Linked DNA regions of Homo sapiens: region 2 is linked to region 1. The links come from fine-mapping of genetic effects on gene expression. Tissue or cell type: esophagus muscle. Region 1 holds a variant in brackets; the other region holds the start of a gene. All regions are shown on one strand. Distances are between the middles of the regions.

Evidence for each region.
Region 2: POLR1A starts here. The variant in region 1 is fine-mapped to the expression of POLR1A in esophagus muscle (GTEx, PIP 0.98).

What each region holds. Positions count from the first base shown.
Region 1 is chr2:86,122,304-86,132,315 of GRCh38, reverse strand. PTCD3 (pentatricopeptide repeat domain 3) reads right to left here. Exons shown (of 24, transcript NM_017952.6): 9 at 8,554-8,615; 10 at 7,234-7,321; 11 at 6,801-6,861; 12 at 6,436-6,521; 13 at 5,011-5,155; 14 at 4,325-4,375; 15 at 1,579-1,668; 16 at 1,210-1,238. Among named protein-coding and RNA genes, the nearest start is that of SNORD94, 8.6 kb to the left of the region's middle. The variant A/G (reference allele first, on the strand shown) is at 4,735.
Region 2 is chr2:86,100,943-86,112,796 of GRCh38, reverse strand. It overlaps POLR1A (RNA polymerase I subunit A), which reads left to right and starts at 6,911. Exons shown (of 34, transcript NM_015425.6): 1 at 6,911-7,097. The coding sequence starts at 7,021. It overlaps PTCD3 (pentatricopeptide repeat domain 3), which reads right to left and starts at 6,562. Exons shown (of 24, transcript NM_017952.6): 1 at 6,446-6,562; 2 at 4,395-4,447; 3 at 4,261-4,297; 4 at 1,639-1,684. The coding sequence starts at 6,549. It overlaps LOC124907852 (a long non-coding RNA gene), which reads right to left. Exons shown (of 2, transcript XR_007087121.1): 2 at 11,476-11,592. RefSeq lists enhancers at 6,252-6,511, 6,892-7,101, 7,302-7,391.

The sequences.
Region 1 (10,012 bases):
GAAAATATGCAAGTAGTAAGTATCACTCTGATACCCTGTCAGCCAGTGGTTCACAAATAAATAACAACAGTAGAGTGTCTTGTGAAAATAATGTTGATTCAACATATTATTGGTTGACAGCAAGTAAGTTATAAGAAATGGGGGGGAGACAAATCCCAAGTTCTGTGAAATTTATTACAATATTATTTTAATTAAGCAATTATACCATTAAAAATTAATCCTGTAACAACACCTGGTCAAGTGCACAAAAGACACCTGCACTGCAGAGTCTGGACTAGTAAAAATCTCCATGAAATAACTCCAAAATCTACCCACAGGAAAGTTAAGTTATGGTTCTTACTATGAAATACTGGTTGCTGCCAACAAATAAAACACCCTGAAAGTATGCCTGGATATACATACGCTTGAGTACCCAGAGTAAAAACCTTGTGAGGATCCATACTAAATACTAGGTTGGTGCAAAAGTAATTGTGGTTTTTGCTATTGAAAGTAGCGGCTTTTGTAATTGCGGTTTTTGCCATGGAAAGTAATGGCAAAGGCCACAATTACTTTTGCACCAATCTAATAGTAAAGCAATTAAATTACCCTTAGGGAACAAGGTTCATCCTAAAACTGCCTGAAATTTTTCCTATGATAAGCATGATTACATAAACTAAAATAAAAACCATTATCAATTTTAACTTACTAATAGGCAAATCTGAAATATTATGGAAGCTTATCTGTTCAGGGGCATGAAAAATGTCAATGTAAACAATAAACAAAGGGTAGGGATAGTATGTGATTGAAAAGTACAGATTTTAGGCCAGGCGCGTTGGCTCAGGCCTGTAATCCCAGCACTTTGGGAGGTGGTCAGGAGTTCAAGACCAGTCTGGTCAACATGGTGAAACTACATCTCTACCACAAAAAATACAAAAATTAGCCAGGTGTGGTGGCGCACACCTGTAGTCCCAGCTATTCGGGAGGCTGAGGCAGGAGAATCGCTTGAACCCAGGAGGCAGAGGTTGCGGTGAGCCACTGCACTCCAGCATGGGGGACACAGTGAACCTCCATCTCAAAGAAAAAAAAAATTATAGATTTTAGAGAAAGAAGAAAAAACAGAAGCAAAGACATGAACAGAAGAGTTAGAAAGTGAAAAGAACCAGGGAGAACCCTCCAGTTACAGATAAATTTAGGAAATGGATAGCAAATTAATAAAGAAATGATACTTACTATGCTCATGGCTGACTGAAAAAACTTATCTGAAAATCAAAGTTCACAAGAGCTTTGGTTACAATGGATAAAATATATTTTCAAGTCAGTAACATTAACAAAAATCCTGCCAACAAAACTGGTAACATGCAAGATAAAGCTAAGAACATAAAAACTTAAGAGAGGCAGGAATGTACCACAATTTTGGCTTTCTCAGAAAGACCATGGCAAATATTACTAAGCTATATACACCTACTATGTACTCAAATTTATTTAAAAAAAAAAAAAAATACTTCTAAGCTATAGGGATCACAAGGCCTCTAACTGGTACTCAGGTAAACCGGCCCTCTGTCTTTAGAGGAGGAAAACACAAGTGATTTCTATACATGCCATCATCCGGGTCCTTTGGAGAAAATCTCTTTCCCATTAATTCATTCATTATATCATAAATGATGAAGGATGATCTCTTTAAAGGGTCTCCTGCAGAACAAGAAAGCAAATGTGTTTAATCCACTTCCTTTACCACCACCAAACTCACTGTACCTAATACAAAGGGACACATTTCTCCTTCCTCCACCTCCAGCCTAAGTCCTCGCATAGATCTGGGTGGAGGCCAATGCTTGCTAAAGGAACCACTATACCCTGCAGAGAGCAATTCTCTGTAAAATCTGGAATAATCACAGGTCTCTGTTCATGTGCTCCACTGAGACTTTCTCCTTCCTTTAGTCTCTTCACATGAAGCCTGACTTACTGAAGTAGGCGGCAGACAGTAACACACACTCCCTCACCAAACCAGCATACTTAGAAAAACAAAATTTTTTTTTTTTTGAGATGGAGTCTTGCATTATTGCCCTGGCTGGAGTGCGATGGCACAATCTCGGCTCACTGCAACCTCCGCCTCCCGGGTTCAAGCGATTCTCCTGCCTCAGCCTTCCGAGCAGCTGGGACTAACGCCCTCGCCACCACGCCTGGCTAATTTTTTGTATTTTTAGTAGAGGAGGGGTTTCCCCATGTTGGTCAGGCTGGTCTTGAACTCCTGACCTCGTGATCTGCCCGCCTCGGCCTCCCAAAGTGCTGGGACTACAGGCATGAGCCACTGCACCCGGCTAAAAATGTTTTTTGCTAGTAATCATTTGTGTTCCCTTTAAATATAATCAGAATGAGGTCAAGAAAAAGTAAACTAGAATTAATGGACAGGGCAGTTCTTAAATATAACATGAACTGAGCACTAATAGGTCAGAAAATCATCTGCAATATTCCCAGTCAAATATTTCTCTACACTCCTTTCCCTACCTGTTTTGTATGTTTGTGGTAGTAAAGCTGTAATGACAGTACAGATAGAGTTTCACAATTTACTCAAGCATGCTTCCCTTTGCTAATATTCTTAATTTTATTAGTTACATAATATTCTCTTTTCAATGTATTGTTTCTAGGTTATTTTAGGCTCTCTCTTTTGGGTAAATTCCTAGAAATTATTATTACTATTGAGACAGGGTCTTGCTCTGTCACCTAGGCTGGAGTGCAGTGGGGCAAACGCAGCTTACTGCAGCTTCAACCTCCTGGCCACAAGCAATCCTCCTGCCTCACACTCCTGAGTAGCTGGGACTACAGGGGTGCGCCACCATGCCCAGCTACTTTTTTCATGTTTAGTAGACATGGAGGTCTCTCTATGTTGGTTTCAAACTCCTGGGCTCAAGCAATCCTCCTGCCTTGGCTTCCTAAATTGCTGGGATTACAGGCGTAAGCCAAAACTACTGCTGCAGACAGGCAAATTTATATACATAAGACAAACCAACACAGCTCCCCCAGAACCCCCATCCCCCAGTCCTGGCTGTTACTTAGGAAATGTAAGTACATCTGACTTTGATTAGCAATTGAACCAGTGATGAGAGTTACAGAGGAAAGGAATATACTTTGGAGTCAGAAATACTAGCTCCATCACAATCTCACCAAGGTTGAGTAAAATTTTAGGGGACACAATTATGGAAACTGTTTACCTGTTTCCAAGGTATAGTCAATTAACTGGTTCCTTTTCCTAAAGATAAAATTTGCCTATACAGGTGAGGATATGGATTTTACAAAATTAGTCCTCCAAACCAGAGAGAAACAACTTCCCTTCTGTAATTTTTATAGTCTATCCACAAGAAAGAATGACTAGAACTGTCAATTCTGAACTCAAGGGTTATTTCTCAGGCTGGGGATAATGGACAAGAACCAAAAGATTTTGAGTGCCTCATATGTGCCCTCCAAGCACAGTAGCAGACACAGTGTGGAACTCATTTAACTACCACACCCTGCTGCTATTCCTCAGGTAGGTATCTAGTCGCTTTGACATAGCTGGTAAATAAATGGTAGAGTGGACATCTCAGCTCAGGTGTGTCTCTCTTCAAAGTCCATCTACTACAGAGCAGAGCTCCCACTGGAACTGACCTAAAAGTGGACAACGCATGGAGCCTTGAGGTCCTCCCAAAACGCTTCACAATAAGTTTACCTTTCCTCTGGAGCAGAAACGTCCACAAACTTTTGGCAAAGATGGAAATGTTCTGAATCTGCATCACGACACATGGTAGCCACTAGACACATGGCTACTGAGCACCAATGTGACAAAATAATTTATTATTTTACTTAATTTTAATTAACTGGCCACATGTGGCTAGTGGCTATGGTGTTAAATAGCACAGCTCCAGAGAACAAAAGGAATTTCAACCAAAATATATTCTACCCAATTCCTGTTTGTACAACATCACTGCCAGTACAATCCATAACCCTCTCCCCTCCAGCTCAAGTTTTAGACCACAAACAAGATTGCTACCCTCAAGAATAATTTTAGGTAGTAAGACCCTGTCCAAAAAAAAAAAAAAAAAATCAGCTAGGCATGCTGGTGGGCATCTGTAATCCTAACTACTCAGGAGGCTGAGGAGGGAGGACTGTTTGAGCCCAGGAGTTCAAGGCTGCAATGGGCAAGATCCTGTATCTAAAAAAACCACAACTTTCTGCTCAGGCTGTACAGGTTAATTTACAAATTCTCTCTTCTTAATTCATATGCAGAGAAGATAACTACAACAATTAATCACATAAACTCAAGAAAGCTGGTCAATTTTCTATATAAATTAACACAATTTAAGGCCATACATACCAGGTTGATCAAACAGGCGAATAATATGGTGATATGTTGCAAGCGAGGGTTCTCAAATTACCAGGTAGACAGAAAAAATAAACAATGAGGTAAAAACACAGCAATCCAAAACATAGTTTACTGAGACACACTGAATTAAAAACATATTGTTAATATTTAAGCAAAATATGCATTTCTATTCCTTTGAACAAAGTTATTTTCCAACTCATTAATGTAAAGGTAAAAAACTATCACAAAGACTGTATCACTTTTTGAAAGTCCAAATACTTATTAGTCACATTCTTCACTGAGAACAGTAAAATATATTGAAGTGAATTGATTCCCAAAGCAACTTTCAATAAAGTAATTAATGAAAAATATACAATACACTAGCACACACTTAGGTTCAAATACCTAATTATGTTGGGAAA[A/G]TGTCATGAATTTAAAACTAGCTAACTCAAAGCAATCACTTCTCCTCAGATTCAACAGATCCATAAACAAAGTACCTAAAATACTAATGAACACTAAGATGATAAAGGCACTCCCACTATAATAAGTACATGTAAGTAAATGTGCCAAACATGGAAAGAAAATTTCCAACATATTATGTAAGCACAAGAATAATTTAAAGCTCTTTGCTTATGTAGCCCTGAAACCTCTGGCTGGCACAGTCTCTGTCCTCAGAGAACTCAAGGGCGCATCCTCACCTATTCCAATGGCTTTCATTTCACGTAAAACCTGTAAGGCTGGCGATCTTGCAAACACATGAAATCTTCGGAGACATTTCAGAATGGTATTAAAAGTCTGAAGATTTGGTTTCACCTTCTGTGCAACCATGTGTCTTAGCAGCTCCTAGGTGAATAAAAAACAAGAAGTATCTTTCATGCCTGGGTAATCTGTCCAATAATCTATGTTTCATACAAAGTAAAGAATTTAGCTTTCTTGCTTATGTTTAAAGCAGGTTAGTAACTATATCCCTCTTTTAAGAACTGTTTATTAATTAGCAGGTTCCATGATTCTGCCTTTTAAAGAAGCCTGCTAATTCAAACACCCACCCCACTTGATAGAGGTGGTCAACTGTCTTCAGTCTTCTACCTAGGAGAGTTTTCCAAGAAAAGACGCAAAAATAATAGACTAGTATGATATAAAAAAGTGGTTGGTTTTTTTTTTTTTTTGAGACAAAGTTTCGCTCTTCTTGCCCAGGCTGGAGTGCAGTGGTGCGATCTTGGCTCACTGCAACCTCTGCCTCGTGGGCTGAGGTGATTCTCCTGCCTCAGCCTCCTGAGTAGCTGCGACTACAGGCGAGCACCACTATGCCCGGCTAATTTTTGTATTTTTGTAGTAGAGACGGGGTTTCACCATGTTAGTCAGGCTGGTCACAAACTCCTGACCTAAGGTAATCCACCCGCCTCAGCCTCAAAGTGCTGGGATTATAGGCATGAGCCACCGTGCCCAGCCGTTTCTATTCTTAAGTTACTAGGCGAGAATCAATCCAGTGATTTCAACTTTTTGAAATTACACCTGATAGGATTTGACAGCAAATATGCATTACTTTGTAACAGAAAAACTATTATGAAAAATAAATGAATAAAATGGTCCAGAATTCTAGCTCTATACTCTCGGTCAAGCAACTTTTTCTTCTTATGTGCCAGACACAGCTGAGTCCCAGGGCTGCGGAAAGGGTAGTGAACAGGTAACTGCTACACAGTGACTGCCATACACATGCTCATAAATGCTGTCTCCAGCCCATGTACTTCTGTTTCTTTTTCTTTTTTTTTTTTTTGAGACGGAGTCTTGCTCTGTTGCCCAGGCTGGAGTGCAGTGGTGCGATCTCTGCTCACAGCAACCTCCGCCTCCCGGGTTCAATAGATTCTCTTGCCTCAGCTTCCCAAGTAGCTGGGATTACAGGCGTGCACCACCACGCCCAGCTAATTGTTTGTACTTTTAGTAGAGACGGGTTTCACCATGTTGGCCAGGCTGGTCTCCAACTCCTGGCCTCAGGTGATCTGCCCGCCTCGGCCTCCCAAAGTGCTGGTATTACAGGTTTGAGCCACCACACCTGGCCAGCCCATGTATTTCTGGTAAAGAGTATTTAAGCCCTATTAAAAAATAAACTGAGGATTCCTCCTTACCAGTATTTTACTCCATTTTTCCTCAAATTTCTCATTTATCGCACATACTGTTGCTTCAATCAATGCATTAAATGTGTATACATCAGCTGTAAAATAATAAAATGATAAAATTTGGGGTTGAAGATTAATCCCTAAATGGCTGAGTTTAAGGCAAAGCAGTCATTCCTATGTGTCCCTTGACTAATCACATGTCCACAAAACTGGAAAACTACTCTCCTCTCTGGATCTCTACTCTTGCTTCAATCATCTACGCCTCAGGAAAAGGTAAAGTGTAGGCCAATGACTGAGGCACGATCCAAAGCCTTCACACAGACAATTAAAAGAAGGAAATGGAGAAAGGGACAGAGGGGAGTTCTCAAACTCACCATGGAGTCTGTTGTTTAGTAACTCAGTGTACAAGTTTAATGCCTGCTCATAAGCTCGGTGCTGGAAAAGGAAAAATTAAGCATCATCAAATTCATTTACTTAAGAAGTCCTTGCACATTTCTGTCCTAGAGTTTGGTAATATAGCTCAGGCTCAATAGATCAGGCTCCTGTTCTCATGAAGCTCATACTCTAGTGCAGTGGGATTTTCTATCCACTGGTAATGCCTAAACATATTTTTATTTGTCACAACTGAAAGTGGGGGAGGAGTACACTACTCACATCCAGTGGGTAGAAGCCAGGGAGCTACTAACATCCTACAATGCACAGGACAGACCCCACAACAAATTACCTGACCCAAAATGTTAGTAGTTCTGAGGCTGAAACACCCTGATCGGTGGAAATGAAAGACAAAAATAAATAAAACAAATGTACCTTCACCATTCCTCGGATCATTGTGCAATAGGAATGTTCATTTTTCTCTGGCATTAGAGAAAAGATTCTCTCAGCGTTGTTTTTTGCTCTAGACACAAGAGAGTAAATGTGAACCCAGGCAATAAGAAATACCAATGAGAGCTACCACCATTTACTGACGGTTTATTATGTTCTAGGCAATGTGCCAAGTACTTTCTATACATTATCTCAATTCTTACAGGGTATTATGGTTATTATCATTTTGAAAATGGGGAAAATCAAGACTTAACGATCTTAATGTGTTGTCAGGGCTTCGCAGGTTAAGTGGCAGAATTACAATTGAAAATGAAAAGTTTATAAACAAGTATATAAATATCTGTGCTATTAAAAACAAGAAGCAACTGTATGACAAAGTCCCTAGTAAAGTTTCCTCACCTTTCTTCAATCTTCAGATACTACTTCCCAGAGGCAAAACGGTTTCTTTTGGATCCTTCTGGTCATATTCTAGCATATGTACTTTTAACTCTTCTCTCATTCCATAACCTCCACCTCCTGGGTTTAAGTGATTCTCCTGCCTCCACCTCTCGAGTAGCTGGAATTACAGGCACGTGCCACCACGCCTAGCTAATTGTTGTATTTTTAGTAGAGATGAGGTTTCACCATGTTGGCCAGGCTGGTCTCAAACCCCTGACCTCAAGTGATCCACCTGCCTCGGCCTCCCACGGCACCAGGATTACAGGTGTGAGGCACTGCGTCCAGCCTACCCCAAGGAATTTAATCTTTCATCCTATCAAATTCATCACTTCAATAACAATTTTAGATAATCATGGTAGCTTTCCCTCTCCAGACATTCACATGAAGTGTCTTCCTTTTAGACACCCAGCTAATTCTCCAATATAATTAAGTTATTACCTTTCATTCAAACTGCTGTGTATGTCTACATGTTGTCAGTGGTCTTAATTTAGCAGTACACTCTAGTGTCCATGATATTTTTAGTAAACAAAAGTATTAAATCTTTCAGAATTAGAGGTATATATTCCAAGGTAGCACTGTTAATGAAACTACCAAAGGAACCATACCATATGAAAGTTATGCTGAGTTAAACAGATGAGGGAAAAAAAAGGGTCAAAGTCTCAACAGATTCTTGTGTTGTTGAATGGAGATAAAGACCTTATTGAAAAACGGTCTAAATGTGTATGAATACAAATAGTGAAATTTATATTGCACAATAAAAATCAATTATTTTAGAACATCACAAGAAAACATCTTCACAGGGTGATGGGGCATATTCCATGCACTGTAAGACACTGTAATTCAAGGTTCTAATTACGTGTGACATACCGCCATGTAACTCCAAACTGATGACCAGCTTTCCTCCTAGATGTCTCATCATTTTCCTCTTCCTGAAATGAATAATCATCAAAAGAAATAAAAGTTAAGGCAATGGAATGCATTTCCCAGTCAGACTACTCAAAATCAGAAAGGCAAAGGGAACTCAGAAAAATAAAGGAAACATAGATCCAGCAGAAGGCAAAGAGGAAGCCCAGTTACGCTTACACCTATACAGTTAATTTCTTAAGTGCAAATCAGATGAAAGGCCAAGTTGACTCTCAAAGCAACAAGTGACAGCGTGGAGACAAGATGAAGCCAGTTCCCTGTATGGCCTGGTCCTCAGACAGAAAGAGGAAAACCAAACAACACAGCCTATTTGCTCAGAGACTACATCTGGCTTGATCCATACAGATAAACTGTCATAATTAGGGTGAAAGCAAGATAAACAACATATAGTTAATGCCTAACACTCACCCAAGCAAACTAAGACTTCTTTTTTTTTTTTTTTTTAAGACAGAGTCTCGCTCTCTCGCCCAGGTTGGAATGCAGTGGCGTGGTCTTGGCTCACTGCAACCTCCACCTCCTGGGTTCAAGGAATTCTCCTGCCTCAGCCTCCGGAGTAGCTGGGACTACAGGCGCGTGCCACCACGCCCAGCTAATTTTTTGTATTTTTTTTAGTAGGGACGGGATTTCACCATGTTAGCCAGGATGGTCTCGATCTCCTGACCTCATGATCCACCCGCCTCGGCCTCCCAAAGTGCTGGGATTACAAGTATGAGCCACTGCACCTGGCAAGACTTCTTACAAGAATAAATCTTGTCTTTATTTATAAACCAAGGTCTGGGATGAGGCTGACGTAGAGCAATACAGGCTTGGTTGGCATTGCAGAGGTCAGTGTTGGCTCTGTAGCCTGCTGCCTCAAGAGCTGGGGCTGGAGAGGCAGAGGGCCAACCAGAGCAGGGCTTCAGGAAGTGATACTCTGGAAAGCAAGGTTTAACTGCAACCTACTGCCTATGCACTTTTAAAAATGTAAAGTTCTCTACATAAATAATCCACATTTGGCCAGGTGCAGTGGTCAGTAATCCCAAAACTTTAGGAGACTGAAGGATCACCTGAGCCCCAGAGTTGAAGACACCATCCTGGGCACTACAGCAAGACCCTATGTCTACCCGCCCTCCCCACCCCAAAAAAAACTAGCCAGACATGGTGGCCCACACTTGTGGTCCCAGCTATTTGGGAGAATGAGGAAGGAGGAACACTTGAGCTCAGGAGTTAAAGGCTGCAGTAAGCTATGATAGCATCACTGCACTCCACCCTAGGTGACAGAGTGAGACCCTGTCTCTGAGGGGGAAACAAGAAATCCACATTTAGTTGGGCAAAGAGTAGAAAAGATAGAAACGAAGAAAAACACCAATAATCCCATCACCCAGAAACACTTTTTAAATGATTTTTTTGTATGCATTTGTAA
Region 2 (11,854 bases), 20 kb after region 1:
AAGGTTTTAACATCCTAACCAGCCACTGGCCACTTTCAAAACCTTAGCTTCCTCCTTTGCCAAATAAAGGGATTTGATAATTTTATTTTAAATTTTTTTTTTTTTTTTTTTTTTTGAGACAGAGTCTCACTAACTCACCCAGGCTGGAATGCAGTGGCAGGACCTTGGCTCACTGCAACTTCTGCCTCCCAGGTTCAAGAGATTCTCTTGCCTCAGCCTCCTGAATAGGTAGGACTACAGGTGCCACCATGCCTCGTAATTTTTGTTTTTGTTGTTTTGGTAGAGACAGGGTTTCACCATGTTCACCATGCTGGTATCGAACTCCTGACCTCAAGCAATCAGCCTCCCTCGGTCTCCCAAAGTGATGGGATTAGTGATGGGATTACAGATGTGAGCCACTGCTCCTGGCCAATAATTTTATTCTTAAAAAAAAAAAAAAAAGGCCGGGCACTGTGGCTCACATCTGTAATCCCAGCACTTTGGGAGGCCAAGGCGGGTGGATCAGGAGGTCAGGAGATGGAGACCATCCTGGTGAGCACAGCGAAACCCCGTCTCTACTAAAAATACAAAAAAATAGCCAGGCGTGGCGGCGGGCGCCTGTAGTCCCAGCTACTCGGGAGGCTGAGACAGGAGAATGGCATGAACCTGGGAGGCAGAGCTTGCAGTGAGCCGGGACTGTGCCACTGCACTTCAGCCTGGGCGACACAGCAAGACTCCGTCTCAAAAAATAAATTAAAAAAAAAAAAAAAAAAAAGTTTGGCGCAGTGGCTCACACCTGTAATCCCAGCACTTTGGGAGGCCAAGGCAAGTGGATCACCTGAGGTCAGGAGTTCGAGACCAGCCTGACCAACATGGAGAAACCCCGTCTCTACTTAAAATACAAAATTAGTTGGGCGTGGTGGCACATGCCTGTAATCCCAGCTACTCAGGAGGCTGAGGCAGAAGAATTGCTTGAACCCAGGAGGTGGAGGTTGCGGTGAGCCGAGATCGCGCCATTGCACTGCAGCCTAAGGCAACAAGAGCAAAACTCTGTCTCAAACAAAACAAAACAAACAAACAAACAAAAAACAGATGGGGGTCTTGCTACATTGCCCAAGCTGGTTTTGAACTCCTGATGTCAAGTGGTCTTCCTACTTTGGCCTCCAAAAGTGTTGGGATCACATTCATGAGCCACCTGGCTCAGCTGGATTAGACAATTTTTTTTTTTTTGAGACAGAGTCTCGCTCTTTCGCCCAGGCTGGAGTGCAGTGGCGCGATCTCTCCTCACTGCAAGCTCTGCCTCCTGGGTTCACGCCATTCTCCTGCCTCAGCCTCCCAAGTAGCTGGGATTACAGGTGCCTGCCACCACGCCTGGCTAATTTTTTATATTTTCAGTAGAGACGGGGTTTCACTGTGTTAGCCAGGATGGTCTCGATCTCCTGACCTTGTGATCCACCTGCCTCGGCCTCCCAAAGTGCTGGGATTACAGGCGTGAGCCACCGCGCCCGGCCTAGACAATTTTAAAGAAACTTTCTAGACGCACAACAGTTTAATTCTGAGTAATGACGAGGTATGAGTATTAAATGTGTTATTAGCCGAGTTAAAAAGTGTGTTATTAGCCAAGTTTTAGGTTAAAAAAAAACACAAAATCCTACTTACCCTGTTTACTGTGGATGCAAGTGCCTGAAGAACGGCTACTTTATCCCTAAAAATAAGAACCACAAGTTAATCCTCATCAGGGCTCTTCATAGCCACAAACCGAACAAGTGATTCTACTCTCAGTGTACTGGCCAATAACATAGTGCAGATCTCATCTGAAGCTGGTTATGTCACAAGGTCACTAGAATAAATTAGAAATTAAGAAAACTGCTGGTTCTTTCCCCTAGTTGGTACATGTTCCTCTCTTTGCCTGTCCTCTCTGGCCTGGTGCATAATGCCATAACCCAGGGCTAGTGATTTCCATCCCGCCCTCATAAAACTATCTGGCCTACTTCCTCTACCCACTTTCCTATGGATTCTTACTGCAGCTTTCGGGACTACTGTTGCCTTTACTATCCTAATTGGTAGCTCTTGATTCAGTTATAGGAGAATAAACCACAGGCTTCACTCTGGACCTATTGCATCAAAGCCTCCCAAGATCCATGGAGGACTGTCACACACACTCTTACTGAATTCCCAGATAATTCTGATGCAACCTCCTGGTTTAGAACCTCTCAACCATATATAACGTTATGGTAAGAATTGCAGGCCAGCTGTCCACTGCACCTCTGAGTAGAGACCTTTACTGAACTATTAGAAAAGGCTTCACTGGAATAAATGACAGACAAGATAATTTGATCTCAAATATATTTGTGCTCCTATGTTAGATTTAATGTGTTTCCTTTCCAAAAGGGAATTATACCAAGAGTATTTTTCTAAATAAAGTTTAACATAACATTCTTAAGACTATAAGTCATCTGAGAAAAACAAAAGTACAGGAAATTTTATATTTCATCAAAACTAATTCCCTGATGTACATAATATCCACTAAATTTTCTATCCACGTTTAGAAGTCACATTTATGTAATTTCAGCAAGTGTGATAACGACACATTCTCTCATCTGTCAGCATTCCTTCAGCAGATCTTTTATTGCCCTATTTAAGTCTTATCAAGTTAGCAAACTTTCCTAACATATTGAACAAATGGCAGTGAAAAAATGATGACATTCAGATTACTCACTAATTCTCTTTCTTTAAAGGGTTACTTTAAAAGGTATCATACATTATCTTAAAAAAATAAACTAGAACATTACACGTTAACCTAAAGTGTCTGGTGTCATCTTGTGACCCCTCTCCACGATGAATTTGGTATTTGTATTTCCAGAACTTTTAAAGGTATTTTCACACATAAACATCTCCCTAAAAAACGTATACACACTGTCATTCTGCATGTGTCTACATAAGTTTGGCTGCACTATCCATGTTATTAAATATAGAGCTAATTAATTCCTTTCAATGTAAAAAGTTATTGTATGATAACCTTTTAAAATTATCCATTCACTTTTCAATGGGCATTCAGGCTGTTTCAACCTGTTACTATTCCCAAGTAATAAAGAACAGTCTTGTCCATGTATATATGCAAATGTTCCTCCAAAGTGGCTAACCAGTAAGGTACGCACATTTCCAATTCTGATTCTGCCAAATTTCCCTCCAAAGAGCTGTTCCAATTTACTGTCCCATAAACAAACGTATTTCTTCAAATCCTCTCTCTGCCAATACGGTAAGTTTTAATTTGCACTTCTTTTATGATCCCAGTTACCTATGCATTGACATCACTGGGCTCCCTGGCCTCCCTAAAATAATCACACAGTTCAGATTAATAAAGTTCTTAAAAAAGTCTTTTTAAATGAACCCAAGTCTTTTTTTTTTTTTGAGATGGAGTCTTGCTCTGTCGCCCAGGCTGGAGTGCAGTGGCGCGACCTCGGCTCACTGCAAGCTCCGTCTCCCGGGTTCACGCCATTCTCCTGCCTCAGCCTCCCGAGTAGCTGGGACTACAGGCGACCCCCCACCACATCCGGCTAATTTTTTTGTATTTTTAGTAGAGACGGGGTTTCACCGTGTTAGCCAGGATGGTCTCAATCTCCTGACCTCATCATCCGCCCGCCTCGGCCTCCCAAAGTGCTGGGATTACAGGCGTAAGCCACCGCGCCTGGCGAACCCGAGTCTTTAGGTCACATAATTTTAAGACCTAGCTTTTTGAGGGGCCACTAAATGCGTTCAATAGGACTACACTGTAACAAGCACTTTTGTGAAGTTTTAATTCCTGCATATTCAACAAATGTTGAATAAATGAGATGAGGCAATTTGTTCAAGGATATATCCAGTGAATAAAAAAGCTAAATTTTGCTGTCCACACCATTTACTTTATTTTTACCTCATTAGAGATAATAAAGACAGTAACTGTCTGCTCTTGAATCATATGAGAGAACTTCCTTGAAAAAAATTATTCTAATGATGATGTTCATGTATAACCATGTATTATTAACCACGTAAATAGTAACCCACACTAATTCAAAATCTCTTTCAATTGTTCTTTTAAGTAAATCTCATTGCTCATTCACTCACTATTCTCCACCTTTCCATTTTTTGTCCTTTAAACTCCTAGCTTCTCCCCGCTCAGCTACTCTCTTCAAGAATGCTCTCCTATTGCTCTTCCTGTCACTGTCTCCTTACCTAACCCTTACACTTCTCTCATAGTAAGCACTCAACCATTTGCTGAATGAACACTGATAGAATACTTACCAAGTTTTCTTTTTTGGAATTACTACTTCTTCAATCCCTAATGTAAAAAAGAAAACATGAATCAGTTTCCTAGTACTACAATGGAATCCAACGTGTTGATATAAAAATAGAATTCAATATATTTTAAAATATACCTGTTACATCAGTTCCTTCAACCTTTGAGAGGGTTGCACTACCAGAATAAAATCTGCAAAAAAACAAAAGCCTTAAATCTAATAGTCATTAATGAAGTACCCAGCTCACCTCCACCTATGTGTACTTTGAGCCCAAATTCTCCAATTATCACGGATTAAACTGGATAACTCATGTCAATGAACGCTGAGAAGACAGTCTGTACACATGTTCAATATCATTAAGGAATGGATACAAGATATGGACAAGACTGTCAAAACTTTTTTTTTTTTTTTTTTAGAGACAGGGTCTTGCTCCATTGCCTAGCCTTTAGTGAAGTAGTGCAATTATAGCTCACTGAACCCTTGAACTCCTGGGCTCAAGTGACCCTCCTGCTTCAGCCTCCTGAGTAACTAGGACTACAGGCATATGCCACCATGCCCGGCTAGACAAAAGTTTTGGAAGCAAGCAATCTCATTACATAAATGGCAGAGAGGGAGGAAAGTTTTTAATAGCACTTGAACAATCTGGTTTGAAATGAAGAACTTTCAACTTCAGGAACCCAAAACACTATGATGTTTAAAAGAACAATTCAGTGAGCTCTTGCTTCTATACAGATACTGCCCTGATCAGAAAGGACTACCTCACTTAAAGCAATTACAACATAGGGAAGATGACCCATGGCTTCTCATTCCACTTCTTTCAACAATCAAGAATGTACCAAATACATAAGGCCTGATTTAGACTTGGAATTGCTGATATTTTCTATTTTCAGAGGTTCAATATGAAATCCTTTTTAAACCAAAATATAGAATCATTGGCCCATGACTGAGTTTTTAAGTGTTCTGTTTAAGTGTTCTGATCACACTAAAAACACAGTCAACACACCACAGATAATGTGACGGTTAGTATTATCTTGTGTTTCCCCTTACTAAATGGCATCAGTAACATTCAGAAAATTGTCAAGATGTGATTGCACAGACAGATACTTCCTCCAGTAGTATCTGGTTTCAGGTATCATTTAAAACAAGAATACCCCTCTACGTTAAGGACATTTCAGAAAGAGATCAACTCTTTCAAGTTTCTGAGATCAACTCTTTCAAGTCACACTATTTGTTTCTCATGACCTTAAAACAGAGATCACAGTTATTTTGAGAACGGATGCTGAGGAAGAGATTCTGCTTCAGGCAAAGAAAATGAGTAGAAAAATGCTAACGATGGCTACCAGGAAACGGAGGACTGGCATTGAATGGCAGCACAAAGGTTTCTGCAGTATCAGATGGAGTGGTTTCTCTTTCTTGAGGGGAACTAAGGGAGAGTACATATAAAAACATATTGTAAATTACATACCCCACTTATACCTCACAAACTTTTCGGATGGTTATTACCAACTCTAGTCTGCAGATGAGGAAATCTGTCTATTATCATCCAATTAAGTGAATGGCAAACACTAAACCTAAAATTAGGCTTTTAGCAAGTTTTCACTACAAATTACTGCCTCTCATATTCCCACAATGCCACTGTTTGTACTGAGTGAAAAAAAAATTACACAGATAGGTCATACATGTTCCAAGCTATAACTATCACAGATCAAAAGGGCATAGTCAGATCTTTTAGACTTTTCTGCTTTTACGAAAACCTGATAACTTCTTTAGCCAAAGTCCCCACGGTGGCGACCAGAGACTGCCTTTTATTTGGGAAGATCTTGTACGTTCTCCTCGCTCCTCCTGATTGGGTTAAAATGAGTAATGGCGGATAATTTTTAATTTGGGGTAGTGTTGCTAATAGCCACACTCACTGGAACGCAAGCTTCATGAGAGCAGGGTCCTAGCTTTGCGGATGGTGTTAACTACAGAATATTGCAAGCAACCAATAAGTATTTCTCTAATGAATAAATGCGTTGCGAATCCTATTTCAAAGGGCCACCTCCGCGTACCTGGTCTTAAGGGCACGCGACCGTTAAGGGCGCGCATGAGCAAACCATTTCATCGTGCCTACTTCCACAGCCAGCTGGGAAACATAGGACTAAGGTGACTCCGCGGTCTTCTTCGCGGATACCCTAAGCGTCTCTTACCTGCAGCTGCGTGCCTGTTCACACAAACCCGCCCGCCGACCCGTCAGCGGCTGGCCAAGCCTGCTGCGGAGGCCCAGCCAGCGAACAGCAGATACAACCGCCATCTTTGATTTCTCTGCAGAGCATGTTGGGAAAGCGTGCCTCGACCTTCAGGAAGGTGGGGCGCAGTGGGCGGGGAGCAGGGAACAGCTCCGCTATTGGCTGAAGCGGAAGAAGACGAAAGCAATCATAAAATGGGAGGTTGCAAGCTCATGGTTTGAAAGACTTCGTCACGGAAGCTAAAAGCTCTATACACCCGATTTGCCTCGGAGGAATTTTCCTAAATGATTATTTTGATGTCTTATATATCTTTGATTGTTTTCAAAACAAAAGAGCGAGCAGAGAGTCGTACAACTATTTGTTCCCCCCCCATGTAGAAGTGATCTCATCCACGTAAATGTCGTTCCTGCGACCGCTTCCGCGCGCAAGCGCACGTTGAATCGCGTGGTGACTCCGGGCTTGAGGTTGAATTAAGAATAGTCAGGTGGTGAGTGGAACGTCTCTTGGGGTGTCGGAATTCAAAACGGACCTGGAGGATGTTGATCTCCAAGAACATGCCCTGGCGGCGGCTGCAGGGCATTTCCTTCGGGATGTATTCGGCTGAAGAGCTCAAGTAAGGAGTTGGTCGGGTAGCGTGCCCAGCCTGGATCTTGAGGTCGGCGCCCTAAACTACGATTCCCAGAAGCGCTTTTGCCCAGTCTATCCTCTTGAGTCCAGGCTTGTCTGGCGCTTGTCCTGCTGGGAGCCGTAGTTCTGGGAACGTTCCTGGGCCGGCGTGGACTGCCTGGATAAGAGGCCGGTGGTGCTGGGGGAAAGAGTTTGCGCTGAGGTAGGGGAATATAAGGGTGGGGAGGGTCCTGGTCTGCAGCGTTATCATCTGCCAGTCTCCTCGTTAACTAACAAGCATTTGTGGAATTAACCATAGTGTACCTGACATGGTTAATTAGGCACGTAGTAAGTTTCCTCTTGTTTGTAAAATGATTGTCCTTCAAGTGTCAGTTCAGGCGTTAACTTCTCTTTGCTAGGACCCTGCTATATTCTCGGTCTGGTTGTTAAATCAAGGGAACTCTCTTTAGTCTTCATTTTGATCAAGGTAGCATTTGACATTCTCCAATGCACTCTCTTGAAACTTTCCTTTCTTCCAGAACCTTATTTGTCTTCAAGTTCTCCTATTTTTATGACAAATACTTCTACCTCCCTCTCTTCCTCTATCGATCTATAACCTCACAAACATTTATTGAGCATCCAGTTTTTTCCAGGCACCAAGCTAGGCGTTAATGACACATTGGTGAGCAAGGTCTGTACCTCATTTTACTCCTTAAATGTTGATGTTCTTCAAGATTCTATTCTAGTAATGTTTTCTTCATGGTAAATATTGTCCCTAGACAATCTCACCACTTTCATGATTTATAGTCTCAAATTTAAATCCCCAACGCAAATTTATTTCCCTGATTTTCAGACCCATTTGTTCAGCTGTCTGTACATCTTTAATTGAATTTCACACAGAGATCTTAAATGCATATCAAAAACTCAACATGGCCTAAATGCATATCAGAAACTCAACATGGCCGGGCACGGTGGCTCACGCCTGTAATCCCAGCACTTTGGGAGGCCGAGGCCGGCGGATCACGAGGTCGGGAGATCGAGACCATCCCTGGCCAACATGGTGAAACCCCGTCTCTACTAAAAATACAAAAATTAGCTGGGCGTGGTGGCGGGCACCTGTAGTCCCAGTTACTCGGGAGGCTGAGGCAGGAGAATCGCTTGAACCCAGGAGGCGGAGGTTGCAGTGAGCCGAGATTGTGCCACTGCACTCCAGCCTGGCGACAGAGCAATACTCTGTCTCAAAAAAAAAAAAAAAAAAACTCAACACGGCATCCCTCTTCAAAGGGAGGGGTTACTTACCCCTCCAAAATGGTGTACGTAGTGCAAAATAGTCACTAGAAACTGGAAAATTATTCTAGATCTCTCCTGACATATAACTTATTTATTGGGCTCTTACTTTGTGTCACCTACATGTCTATTTGTTCTTAGTCTCCTTTTTCTCCCAATTGCTACTGTGTTGCCTCTGGCCCTTATCTCATATTTGAATTGTCTTTTCCTTCCACCCTCCCCTTACACCTCTCAAGTGCATGCTCCACACTGCTGTCAAAATTATTCTTGCAAAGTGCAAATGTAGTCATGCTACTGTCACCCTTAAAACCCTCCAAATGTTCTCCATTTCCCTCAGATAAAGTATATTTTCTTAGCATAGCCTGCAAAGTCTCCCATGATCAGACCAATGCTGATTTTAGCTATAACATCATCCCTTCTTCAGCCCTATTAAACCACCTGCATATTCCAGAAACCGCCATCATATTTCAACATCTGGGCCTTTCTTTAAGCTATTCCCTCTGCATGCAGTGTCCTTTCAGCCAAAAGGAGGTACTTCCCTCTGTCCCCTACCCAACATACACACCTGAAAGCTCAGTTCACCTCCCTTGTTTTGTGAGGTCATTTTGCACATGATACAGTTGTCTGTCATGGTGCTTTAGTGACTTTTTGTGCTTATGTATATTTGTCTTCCTCCACTATCCTTGAGCTTCTTATATGTGTCACTCTTGTCTTTTATCCTCAAGTCTGAATAAATGGATGAATAAACTCCTGAGCCACAGCTCTGGTATCATTGGTAACAGTGTGCTAGCCCAGAAATTCCAATTATATCATCACTGCCATAAGTGGATACGATTTCATCCAAAAGCAGAAGTGTTTTAAGTTGCCTGAATTTTTAAAAAGATAATTGTGGAGTTTTCAAACAAGTTTAGAGTTGAGACATTTCAATAATACTGCCACCTTTTATTGTGCCAGGTTCTAATAGCTTCCCATCTCACTCAGAGTAAAAACCAAGTCTTTACAAATGGCCTGGAGGGGTCATTTCAGTCTCCTGTTACCTCTCTGATCTCACCTCTATTCTGGCTACCCTGACCTCCTTGCTGCATCCAGAGCACCACGGGCACACATCCACCTCAGGACCTTTGCACTCCCTGCTTCTTCCTCCTGTAAAACCCTCTGCCCAGGTGACTGTATGGCCTGCTCCCTCAACTCCTTCAGCCTTTGCCCAAGTTCCTCCTTAGTGGGCTTCTAGGACCACTTGCCTACTCTGCTCTTCCCTTTCCCTGCATTATTTTTCGTCATAGCCCTTTCTGCCGTCTAACAGACTATACATTTTGTGTCTGTTCCCGTTCCTCCAATAGAATGTAAGGCCTGTAAGCATAGCAGTTCTTGTCTGTTTCCTTAGCACTTAACACTGTCTGGCACACAGTGAGCACTCTGGGTATTTGTTGAGTGTATGAATAGATGGATAGAGGAGCTAGCTGCTCAGTGCTTGGCACTTTCAGTCCTTAACGACACCCATTCTCAGTTCTTAACAACACCATTTGTGGTGGCACCTCCAGTAAAAAATTCAGGCCCAGAGAACAAAATGTCTCTCTAGGAAGTGGCAAAGGTCATCTTCAAACCTAAGTCTATTGATCTCAAACTCTACTGACTGGTGGAATCCTTGCTAGTTGCCCCTACTCTTCATCCCACTCCTGTAATGGTGGGAGGGACTTTCTCCTCTACAAAGAGAGAGGAACTTTGTTTGACACTGTATTTTCTGTATGTTATCTTCTAATCATCCCAATAGAGCTGCTGTGATGCCCAGACTTCAGGTGAGAAAAAAATTAGGTAGTTATCAAAGGATACAGTCAGCAGAGTGAAAGGGCAACCCATGGAATGGGGGAAAATATTTGTAAATTATATATCTGATGAGAGATTGATATCTAGAACATAAAAAGAACTCCTACAACTCAACAACAACACAAAATTCAATTTTAAAATGGACAAAGGACTTAAACAGACATTTTTCCAAAGAAGACATACAGATGGCCAGTGAGTATGTGAAAAGATGTTGAACATCACCAATTTTAGGGAAATGCAAATAAAAAGCTCCTCAAATCCAGTAGGGTGCTACTATCAGAAAAACAGAAAGTAGTAAGTGTTGGCAAGGGTGTGGAGAAAGTGGAAGCTTTTTGTACACCATTAGTGTGAATGTAAAATGGTGCAACCACTATGGAAAACAGTAGGGTGGATTCTCAAAAAACTAAAGACAAAATTACCATGTGATCCAGCAATTCTACTTCTGGATGTGTATCCAAGGAATTGAAAGTAGGGTCTCAAAGAGATATTTGTATACCTATGTTCATAGCAGCATTATTCACAATAGTGAAAAAGTGGAAACTACCCAAGTGTCTATCAATGGATGGGTTGATACATAAAATGTGGTATATACATGCAATGGGATATTGTTCAGCCCTAAAAAAGGAAAAAAGTTCAACACATCCTATAACATGGATGAACCTTGAGGGCACGGTGCTAAGTGAAATAAGCCAGTCACAAAAGGACAAGTACGGTGTGATTCCACTTAATATAAGGTACCTAGAGTAGTCAGATTAATCAAAACAGAAAGTAAAATGATGGTAGCAGAGGAGATGAAGAATTACTGTATAATGGGTACAGGGTTTCAATTTTACAAGATGAAAAAGGGTTCTGCAGATGGAGAGTGGTGATGGTAGCACAATGCAAATGTACTTAATACCACTGAACTGTACTAATTGAAACAGTTATGATGAATTTATATATATTTTATTACAGTTTCAAAAATTAAGATTAAAGAACAAAAGGTAAGTAATTTGTTCAATGTTACCCAGTTCAGGGTTGCAGGTGGACTCTAGATTTGTGGGAAGAGACCACACGCACAACTTTTGAGTTAGATCAAGTTTCTCATGAAATTAGCTTACTGGCAGCAAGGTGACCATATAGACAAGAGCCACAGCAGCAGATCTGCCTCCCTGTCGCCTTGGCCCTTAGAGTGACACTGGCCATGCAACATAGAATCTTCTAGAGCTGAGCAGCTTAGTTCCTGATAGACTAACATTGTTTTACACTCAGAACATGTCACCACTCATGAAAACTTGACACTATTTTTGTGCTTTATTAAAGGGAGTGTTTACATCATTAGGGGACTCTCGTTTCAGCCTTCGGATTTCCTCTAGGCTGTCAGATTGGGATGGTTTCTTTGTCTTTATTTTCTAAATCAGAAAGGAGAAAATTGTAAAAGCAAAGTTAGCCTACTAAACATAGTTGTGTCCTATGGGAGCACCTTTCAAACCAAACATAAAATGTGATGAAACCTTTTTTAAGGTTTGACTAAATGTGTTTAATGTTGTCAAATTTACTATTTCTGCATACAGGGATTGTTGCATCACATTCCCTTCATTGAACTGGGTGGGCTTTGGAGTTAAGTCTATTCCATATCCTGCCTCCCCCACATTCTGTTTGTATTTGTGTCAC